2 separate regions of the Homo sapiens genome follow, and region 1 is linked to region 2. The links come from fine-mapping of genetic effects on gene expression. A gene starts in region 2. The other region holds a variant in brackets. All regions are shown on one strand. Distances are between the middles of the regions. Region 1 overlaps GRID2IP (Grid2 interacting protein). Region 2 holds the start of ZDHHC4 (zDHHC palmitoyltransferase 4).

The links.
Region 1: its variant is fine-mapped to the expression of ZDHHC4 in whole blood (INTERVAL, PIP above 0.99).

Annotation. Positions count from the first base shown.
Region 1 is chr7:6,543,145-6,548,518 of GRCh38, reverse strand. All of the region lies in intron 1 of GRID2IP (Grid2 interacting protein), which reads left to right. Among named protein-coding and RNA genes, the nearest start is that of GRID2IP, 5.6 kb to the left of the region's middle. The variant G/A (reference allele first, on the strand shown) is at 2,673.
Region 2 is chr7:6,574,818-6,580,191 of GRCh38, reverse strand. It overlaps ZDHHC4 (zDHHC palmitoyltransferase 4), which reads right to left and starts at 2,738. Exons shown (of 8, transcript NM_001134389.2): 1 at 2,694-2,738; 2 at 1,472-1,626. RefSeq lists an enhancer at 1,495-2,110 and a silencer at 2,389-2,718.

The DNA.
Region 1 (5,374 bases), 32 kb after region 2:
GGTACCTAATACGTGTATATATTTATGGGGTATCTGAGATACTCTAATACAGGCATGCAATGTGAAATAAGCATGTCATGGAGAATGGGGTACCCATCCCCTCAAGCATTTATCTTTTGAGTTATAAACAATCCATCTACACCGTTTAAGTTTGTATTTATTTTTTTTGGAGCCAGAGTCTCGCTCTGTTGCCCAGGGAATACAGTGGTACGATCTCGGCTCACTGCAACCTCCGCCTCCCGGGTTTAAGCAATTCTCCTGGCTCAGCCTCCCAAGGAGCTGGGATTACAGGCCCCCACCACCATGCCTGGCTAATTTTTGTATTTATAGTAGAGACACGGTTTCACTATGTTGTCCAGGCTGGTCTTGAACTCCTGACCTCAGGAGATCTGCCTACCTCGGCCTTCCAAAAGTGCTGGAATTACAGGTGTGAGCTACTGCACCTGGCCTAAGTTATTTTAAAATGGACAATTAAGTTATTATTGGCTATAGTCACCCTGTTGTGTTATCAAGCTCACAGACTTTTCCTCCGTGGAAGGGAATCTGCTCAGTTCTGCCCCAGCAGCACTTGGCCATGGGGTTTGGGAGGTCAGGGAGCCTGGAAACTTTGTCGGAGTTTGACTATTGCAGAAATGCCTCCCAGCCCACTGCCCAGGCATCAGGTCCCCACCCACTCTGGCCTCCTTCAGTGCCCAAGCTTGGTCCAGTCCTAACCCCTTCCAAATTAACCCCCTCAGGAGTGTCTCCTCCATCATGTACCCTAGCCTGATCCCCTGAATGGGCTTTTCTGACCCTGAGTAGACCAGCCTCTGTGGCCAGATACACACACTCGCATACACACAGGACTCAACTCCAGCTTCCCTACATCACCAAAGTCCAGATCTTCCAAAGCTGTGACTTTCTTCCTGTACCCACAACAGGCTCTGCTGCTATAACAAACAAACCCAACATTTTTTATTGTTGTTGTTTTTGAGACAGGGTCTAGCTCTGTTGCCCAGATTGGAGTGCAGTGGTACAATCATAGCTCACTACAGCCTCCAACTCCTGGGCTCAAGTGATCCTCCTGCCTCAGCCTCTCTAGTAGCTGGGACCACAGGTGTGCACCACCACACCTGGCTGATTAAGAAAAAAAAAAAAGACTGGGGAGATGAGGTCTTGCTATGTTGCCCAGGCTAGTCTCAAACTCCTGGCCTCAAGCAATTCTCCTGCCTCAGCCTCCCAAAGTGCTGGGATTATAGGTGTGAGCCACTGTGCCTGACCCAAAATCAACAACTTAGTGCGTTTGCACTACAGAAGTTTACTTTTCACCCACAGAGTCCTCTAGGGGGTCAGTAGACTTTCTAGGGTGGCTTGATGTCCATACGAGGTCTCAGCATTTCAGACTCCTCCATCTCTATGTGAAGCTTCAGGGTTCCCTATGGAAGAGGAAGAGAGCTTGGAAAATTGTGCATCTCCTCTTAGAACAGCACCTGTCCTCAATGCTCATTGGGCAGAACTAGGTACACTGCTCCTCCCTAAGGATGCTGGGAAATGTAGTCTAATGTGTGTCCAGGAAAGAGGGAAGACCTAGAAATATTGGTGAGTGCGAGTAATGCCTGCTACAATCCCAGATCACCTGCCATGGAGCCAAAGGTCTATCCCAGACTCCATCTAATCCCTGCAGAGTTGGAAGGGGGCACGTTCAGAGCTCCAAACAGGGCAGGATGCAAGAGAAGACCTGCCCAGGAGCAGGGCTGGGCAGCAACCCGCTGAGGGTAGAATCCGACAGGCTGCCCAGGCCAGCTGCAGTGTGTTTTCTGGCAAGGAGGAACGGGGAAGTGGAGGATTTTGGTTAGGGCTCGCTGGGCACCCACAAAAGCTGAGAGTGAATCTCCAAAAATGACTTCCTCTGGAAGATGAAGGGCCTCCGTGGAGCCCAGTTGGTTTTCTATCTTTTTTTTTTTTTTTTTGAGACAGAGTTTCGCTCTTGTTGCCCAGGCTGGAGTGCAATGGCGTGATCTTGGCTCACTGCAACCTCCGCCTCCTGGGTTCAAGCAATTCTCCTGCCTCAGCCTCCCAAGAAGCTGGGATTACAGGCATGTACCACCACGCCCGGCTAATTTTGTATTTTTTTTAGTAGAGACAGGCCAGGCTTGGTGGCTTGGCTGGGCACGGTGGCTCACACCTGTAATCCCAGCACTTTGGGAGGCCGAGGCAGGCAGGTCACCTGAGGTCAGGAGTTCAAGTAGAGATGGGGTTTCACCATGTTGGTCAAGCTAGTCGCAAACTCCTGACCTCAGGTGATCCACCTGCCTCTGCCTTCCAAAGTGCTGGGATTACAGGCATGAGCCACTGCGCCAGACTGGTTGGTTTTCAATCACCAGCCCTCCAGTTCTCGCCTGCGCTTTCTGCCTGCCCCAGTTTTTCCTCCTTGAAGTGGCTGATATTTAATAGAAAATCCATTAGTGTCCCGTGATGATACCTCATGCTTAGATGTAGGCTGAGAACATCTGGGTAATAACTGACACCGAAACCGCACTGTAGCACGGGCCCCAGGAGGGAGGAACTATTTTTTCCTCTTTCTTACATAAAACATCTCTGCAGCCAGCCATGTTCTCCTTTGAATTGAGGTTGCTGCTGACTTTGATTTCCAAACTGGCAACCTTCCCCAGCACGGCGCGTGCGTGGGGAGG[G/A]GGCGGCTGGTGCTGCCAGCCTGGCCCACTCACAGGGAGGGAAACAGTGGTGAGCTGGGGCCTGCAGGAAGTGCAATGCAAGGCTGCTTTTTGATTCAGTCCCATCCACATTCTCTGAGTGCCTAATATGTGCCAGGCGCTGTGCTTGGGGCTGGACAAGCATGAGACCCCGGATCATCACACCTGGGTGGGGGAGACAGACGGTTACACAGACTCATGGTGCATCTGTGCTAGGATTCAGACGTGTACAGAACGTGGCCTCTGACTGGAAACCCTCGAAGCTTCCCGCTACTTCTCCTCCCCTTTTGGAATCATCTAGAAAGCGGGTGGATATACAGTTCCAGAGTTCAAGAGCGAGCTCTCGGCTGAAGATCGAGGTCTGAGAGTCACTGTCTGGGGTTCTTCGCCAGAGCTGGGTCGTGGAGAGCCTCAAGTGCAATAGTGAACTGCAGTGGCAAAGGGCAGTGGTACAGAAACAGCACGTGTAGACGGCTCCAGACTACAGAAGGGAGGAGAATGAGCAGCTTTCAGGATCAAAGGAGGATTGTCTTTTATTTATTTATTTATGGAGACAGGGTCTTGATCTGTCACCCAGGCTGGAGCTCAGTGGTGTGATCATGGCTTACTGCAGCCTTGATTTCCCGGGCACAAGAGATCCTCCTACCTCGGCCTCCCAAGTATCTGGTAGCTGGGAATACAAGCGTGCACCACCATATCTGGCTAACTTTTTACTTTTTCTTTTCTTTCTTTTTTTTCTTTTGAGATGGAGTCTGTCTCTGTCACCCAGGCTGGAGTGCAGTGGCGCGATCTCGGCTTACTGCAAGCTCCGCCTCCCGGGTTCACACCATTCTCCTGCCTCAGCCTCCCGAGTAGCTGGGACTACAGGCGCCCGCCATCACGCCCACCTGGCTAATTTTTTTTCTATTTTTAGTAGAGACGGGGTTTCACCGTGTCAGTTGGGATGGTCTCGATCTCCTGACCTTGTGATCCGCCTGCCTCGGCCTCCCAAAGTGCTGGGATTACAGGCATGAGCCACCGCGCCCGGCTGTCTTTCATTTTTTAGAGACAGGGTCTGGTTATGTTGCCCAGGCTGGTCTCCAACTCCTGGCCTCAAGTGATCCTCCCGCCTTGTCCTCCCAAAGCTCTGGGATTATAGGCATGAGCTGCTGTGCCCAGCTTGTTATTTATTTATTTATAGCCTGAGAGAGACTTGAACATTTATATAAGCTGCAGGGAATGGAGAAGTAGATATACTGAAAACCATGCAGGCCGGGCACAGTGGCTCACACCTGTAAACCCAGCACATTGGGAGGCTGAGGCGGGTGGATCACCTGAGGTCAGGAGCTCGAGACTGCCTGGCCAACATGGAGAAACCCTGTCTCTACTAAAAACACAAAACATTAGCTGGTTGTGGTGGCGGGTGCCTGTAATCCCAGCTACTCAGGAGGGTGAGGCAGGAGCGTCGCTTGAACCCGGGAGGCAGAGGTTGCAATGAGCCGAGATCATGCCATTGCACTCCAGCCTGGGCAATAAGAGTGACACTCCATCTCAAAAAAAACAGAAAGAAAAAAGAAAAAGAAAACCATGCATTTACCAGTCATTGATCATGGGCCTATGATGTGCAGGACAGGGGAAACAGCCATGAACAACACAGGCAAGGAGCCTGACTTCACACACCTAACATTACTGCAGGGAAAGAGACAGTAAGCAAGTGGATTAATCAATACACAAGCTATTAAAGATCATGACAGGCCAGGCACGATGGCTCAGACGTGTAATTCCAACACTTTGGGAGGCCGAGGTGGGAGGATCACCTGAGGTCAGGAGTTTGAGACCAGCCTGGCCAACATGGTGAAACCCCATCTCTACAAAAATTACCAAAATGAGCCGGGCGTGGTGGCATTTGCCTATAATCCCAGCTACTTGGGAGGCTGAGTCAGGAGAACTGCTTGAACTCAGGAGGTGGAGGTTGCAGTGAGCCAAGATCCCACCACTGCACAGAGCGACAGAGTGAGCGACAGAGTGAGACTTTCTCTCAAATAATAATAATAATAATAAAATTAAATTAAATTAGCCAAGCACAGTGGCGTGCACCTGTGATCCTGGCTACTCGGAAGGCAGAGGTGGGAGGATCGCTTGAACACAGGAGTTCAAGGCCACAGGGAGCTATGATTGCACCACTGCACTCCAGCCTGGGCAACAGAGCAAGACCCTGACTCCAGAAAAAAAAAGATGATGATGAATAAAGTGGAGGCATAAATAGGGTGAGGTGAGAGTGACGCAACCCACTTTGACAGGGTGGCCAGGAAAGGCTGCCTGATGAGATGATCTTTGAGCTGAAAGCTGAATGACAAGTAGGTGGCAGGAAGAAAGGGGTGGAGACTGGGAATGGTGAGGTGTCTGTGGCCTGGTGATTTGGCCTTGACTACAAAGGGGGCTTTTTTTTTTTTTGAGACAGAGCCTCGCTCTGTCACCAGGCTGGAGTGCAGTGGCACGATCTTGGCTCACTGCAACCTCCGCCTCCCAGGCTCAAGCAATTCTCCTGCCTCAGCCTCCCGAGTAACTGGGATTACAGGCGTTTGCCATCAGATGCTCAGCTAATTTTTGTATTTGTAGTAGAGATGGGGTTTCACCATGTTGGCCAGGCTGGTCTCGAACTCCTAACTTCAGATGATCCACCCACCTTCGCCTCCCAAAGTGCT
Region 2 (5,374 bases):
CTGTCTCAATTTAATAAAATAAAAAATAAAAAAAGAAAGATAAACTTTTTTTTTTTGAGACAGAGTTTCACTCTTGTTACCCAGGTTGCAGTGCGGTGGCGTGATCTTGGCTCACTGCAACCTCCGCCTCCCAGGTTCAAGCAATTCTCCTGCCTCAGCCTCCTGAGTAGCTGGGATTATAGGCACGCACCCCATGCCTGGCTAATTTTTGTATTTTTAGTAGAGATGAGGTTTCACCATGTTGGCCAGGCTGGTCTCGAACTCTTGAACTCAGGTGATCCACCTGCCTCGGCCTCCCAAAGTGCTGGGAGTACAGGCGTGAGCCACTGCACCTGCCCAAGATAAAAACTTTGAATCTAACACCCTAAGACTGTGGCCTGCCTTTGAAGCATCTCCAACTTGCAAATCCAAAATAAACCAAGAAAGAACATGCATCCTCCTTCCTTGCCCCCAGGCATGAATCATTCTTTTACTTCCTTAAATATTCACAAAGATACAAGATGTGTCCCCAAAGAATCTGCTGACAATGCCTTGAGAACAAGCATCTCCTAGAGGCAGTCAGGAGCCCTGCACCCAGAATCAGGCATCCTGTCCTAAGAAGCATCCCTCCAGGACACTGGCCACAACCATCAGGAATTACCCTCTGGAACCAGAGTCAACACACAGGCCTGCGTTAAAATACTGGATACTGAGGCCGAGCGTGGTGGCTCATGCCTGTAATCCCAACACTTTGGCATGTCGAGGCAGGCGGATCACGAGGTCAGGAGTTCGAGACCAGTCTGGCCAACATGGTGTAATCCCCATCTATACTAAAAACACAAAAATTAACCGGGCGTGGTGGCACATGCCTGTAATCCCAGCGACTCAGGGGGTGGAGGCAGGAGAATCTCTTGAACCCAGGAAGCGGAGGTTGCAGTGAGCCGAGATCGCGCCACTGCACTCCAGCCTGGGCAACAGAGCGAGACTCCGTTTCAAAAAAAAAAAAAGAAAAGACACTGGATACTGGAACTCTTTTCCATAGTGTAGCGGTTTAAGAAAAAAAAAGAAGAAAAAAAAGGTACTGGAATTGGCCGGCCGTAGTGGCTCGTGCCTGTACTCCCAGCACTTTGGAAGGCTGAGGTGGGAGGATCACTTGAACCCAGGAGTTCAAGACCAGCCTGGGCAACAAAGCGAGACCCCCATCTCTACAAAAAATACAAAAATTAGCCAAGTGTGGTTGCGCATGCCTGTGGAGGCTGAGGCGGGAGGATTGCTTGAGCACAGGAGTTCAAGCCTGGGCGACAGCATGAGACCCTGTCTCAAAAACAAACCAAAAAAGATACCGGAACTGGTCACTTTTGACCTTAGCAGATAAGATTCTGGGCTGTAATGCCAAGTGAGATAACCAAACAAGAAGCTATTCATGACATGATAGGTGAGAGTAAACAAACAGCAGCAATTCTCACGGGGTGATTCAGGGTACCCAGCCTACATTTCTCTTGGTTGGGTAATTTTCAGCCGGCAGCTCTGGCATTCCTCTTCCCAACATTCACAGATAATTCAAACAGCAGCTCCTCTTGGGCAGCAGTGTGTGCCTGGCATGACCAGTAGCTGCCGGACATGGTTCTTCCAGGAGCCTGGATCTGGCTGCAGAGACAGATCAATTCAACACCCACATAAGACGACAAGAGTTGCAGTCAAAGGCAGAATACCTGTGGAAAAGGATTTGGAAGTAGGGGATTTTCAGCACCCCCAGCATGAATGGGTAAGACTTTGGGAGAAATGGCCCAGACTAAGTTGCTTAGGCCTGCTCCCAAATCTTTGGGAGGCCCAGGCAGGAGGATAGCTTGAGGTTAAGAGTTCGAGACCAGCCTGGGCAACACAGTGAGATCACTGTCCCTACATAAAAATTTAAAAATCAGTGGGGCGTGGTGGCCCGCGCCTGTGGTCCCAGCTACTTGGGAGGCTGAGGTGGAAGGATGGCTTGAGCCCAGGAGGTCGAGGCTGCAGTGAGCTGTGATCGTGCCACTGCCTTCCAGCCTGGGCCATAGAGCTGGACCCCATCTCTAAAAACAATAAAAGAGGCCGGGCGCGGTGGCTCACGCCTATAATCCCAGCACTTTGGGAGGCCGAGGCGGGTAGAACACCTGAGGTCAGGAGTTCGAGACCAGCCTGACCAACATGGTGAAATCCGTCTCTACTAAATACAAAAAAAATTAGCTGGGCGTGATGGCGCATGCCTGTAATCCAAGCTACTGGGGAGGCTGAGGCAGAATTGCTTGAATCCGGGAGGCGGAGGGTGCAGTAAGCCGAGATCGCGCCACTGCACTACAGCCTGGGAAACAAGAGCGAAACCCCGTCTCAAAATACAATAATAATAAAGACTTTGTGAGAAACAGCTAGTTGGGAAGAAATAAGCCAAGTCGGTAGCCTTGGGTCTCTCCCCGCCACTCCCCATTAGGGCCTCCCGAAGCCACCCCCATCCAAGGCACCTCCTGGGCGGGCCTGGTCGGAGATTTCCCTGGGGGCTGGAGCCCTGGTAGGGGGACGTGGAGTGCAGCAGGCTCGGAGGGGACACCGGGGCCGCCCCGGACTCGGGCGAGGTGGGGGTGGGACGGCGGCCCTACACACAAGGGGAAAGGGAGGGTCAGAGGAGGAGACTGACGGTCCTGGGACAGCCCAAGCTTCCCACAGCCCCGCGGAGGCGGCCTTACCGCCAGCCGCTGGGCTCCGGCGCCTCCCGGGCGCGATACGAGACTTCCTGCGGGCTCGTGACATCAGCACGGCGCCCCTGAGGGGCTGACTTCCGGCGGAAGTGTGCGAGGGCCGCCGCGGGTTGCGGGGCTGGAGTAACAGTGACCTCCCCGGCGCCCTCGCAGCCAGCCTGGGGACCTCCGTGGCCGGGTGTAACCGCTGGGAAGTGCGATTTTATTTTATTTTATTTTATTTTATTTTATTTTATTTTATTTTATTTTATTTTATTTTATTTATTTTATTTTATTTATTTTATTTTATTTATTTTATTTTATTTATTTTATTTTATTTATTTTATTTTATTTTATTTTATTTTATTTTATTTTATTTTATTTATTTTATTTTATGTATTACCTATTTTCTTATTTACTTATGTATTCGTTCATTCATTCAGAAACAGCCTCGCTCTGTCGCCCAAGCCGGAGTGCAATGGCGCTATCCTAGCACACTACAACCTCCAACTCCTGGGCTCAAGCAATGCCTCCTGCCTCAGCCTCCCAAGTAGCTGGGACCACAGGTGCATGCCACCACACCCGCCTAATTTTTTTTTTTTTTTTTTTTTTTTTGTAGAGACGGGTGTCTCACTATGTTGCCCAAGCTGATCTCGAACTCCCGGGCTCAAGTGATCCTCCCACCTCGGCCTCCCAGAGTGTTGAGATTACAGGCGTGAGTCCCTGCACTGGGCTGGAAGTGGGATTTTAGAGCAGTATTGCCAGGAGACTTACAGGAGGACCGACCTGGGCCTGGTGGGGGCGATCATTCTGGGGCTGTGACAGGGACTAAGCTGCCCTGCGGCCTGCACAGAGACCAGTCATGTCCCTGCTCAGAGCCCAGCAGGGGGATCCAGGTGGCCCAGGGCAGTCACACTTAGGGGGCTCTCAGACTATGTCTGTGTGGTGGACAGAGTTTGCTTTCAGCCACCCACACTGTTGAGATCTAGCAGAACATTTCCAGCATCTTCCGTTGCAGAAGCGGGCAGAAAGCACAATGTGTACCCATCAGTCAGATTCCGCTCCATGTGTGTCCTTGCTCCTGATGACAAGGACATGTTGCTCTGTACAGCCCTAAATATCCTCGGGGCAGTGACAAATACTTGACCACAAACGTTGAGGATAAAAGGGAAGGGTGTTTGATGCTAGGCAGGCTTGGGGTAACAAGAGCTGCTTCCAAACATAGCCCTGAGAAGGCCCTGTGGGGTGTCCTTTGCTCTGACCATCTCTGAATCAGCTGAGGCCAGGGTCTATTCCTGATGCCTCTGAAGACCTGAGCCAGGCCTGTCCTCCTTTGAGGGGAAATGTCTGATCTCCAAACACTGGCCTTAAAGCTCTTCTCTTTTCCTGTCTCTTTGCTACCTACGTCAGCTTCTTGATGCGTTTTCTTTTCCTTTTTATGAAACTCCTTACCAACAGGATGCCTTCTCCTGTGTACATTGTATCCAAGGTCTTCATAAATTTATGGACCCAGAATTGAAAAACCAAGGCTCATACCTATAATTCCAGCACTTCAGGAGGCCGAGGTGGGAGGATCGCTTGAGCCCAGGAGTTTGGGAACAGTCTGGGCAACATATGGAGACCTTGTCTCTACAAAAAATTTAAAAATTAGCCGGGTGTGCTGGCATGCACATGTGGTCCCAGCTACTTAGGAAGCTGAGGTGGGAGGATTGTTTGAGCCCAGGAGGTCAAGGCTGCAGTGCGTTAGGATCACACCACTGCATTCCAGCCTGGACCACAAAACAAGACCCTGGTTCAGAAAAAAAAAAAAAAAAAGATTAATCTCTCAGCACTTGGTCAGTTCCTGAAACCTAGGCATGTTTGATTTTTTGCCTCTTTAAAACATCCAAGCGCAAACCTTGACACCTGCATTTTATAAATAGCATAAGAGAAAACAGACTACTTAAGCTTAAAACCAAAAATTCAAGTGTGATCAAAAGGATTGCCTTGCTTGTGATGCATGGAGCAAAGAATTCCTCTTTGGAGTGTTGCTAAACGCTCCTGTCAGCTCCTGAAACTGGACCTGCAGTATCAGTTTTTTACCTGCTGTGAGATCAGTTGACAGGATCAACCAGCTTTACACCACGATCTCTTGTCCCCAAGGGAATGATGGATGCTATACTTTGGAAATGGGATACAGGACTTCGTAGCTACGCTTGCAAAAGGCATATCACACATGATGCTTGTTTACAATCAGTGATTTATTGACCATGAGGAATTTTGCCATGGAGAAATTAAGAAGAAGGAAAGGAACATAAAAGTATTTTTGAACCATGCATAGTGGCTTATACCGGTAATCCCAACACTTTGGGAGGCTGAGGAGGGCTGATCCCTTGAGACCAGGAGTTTAAGACAAGGCTGAGCAACCTAGTGAGACCTCACCGCTACAAAAAAGTTTTCAATTAGTTAGGTGTGGTGGTGTACACCTGTAGTCTCAGCTACTTGGGGAGGCTGAGGCAGGATGAGGCAGGAAGATTGCTTGAGTCCAGGAATTTGAGACTGCAGTGAACCATGACTGTGCCACTGTATTTCAGCTTGGGCAATAGAGCAAGACCCTGTCTCAAAAAAAAAAAAAAAGAAAAGAAAAGAAAAAAAAAAGGACTGGATCTGTGTTGGCTTACTGTTATATCAGTAGCAACTATTTTAGCACC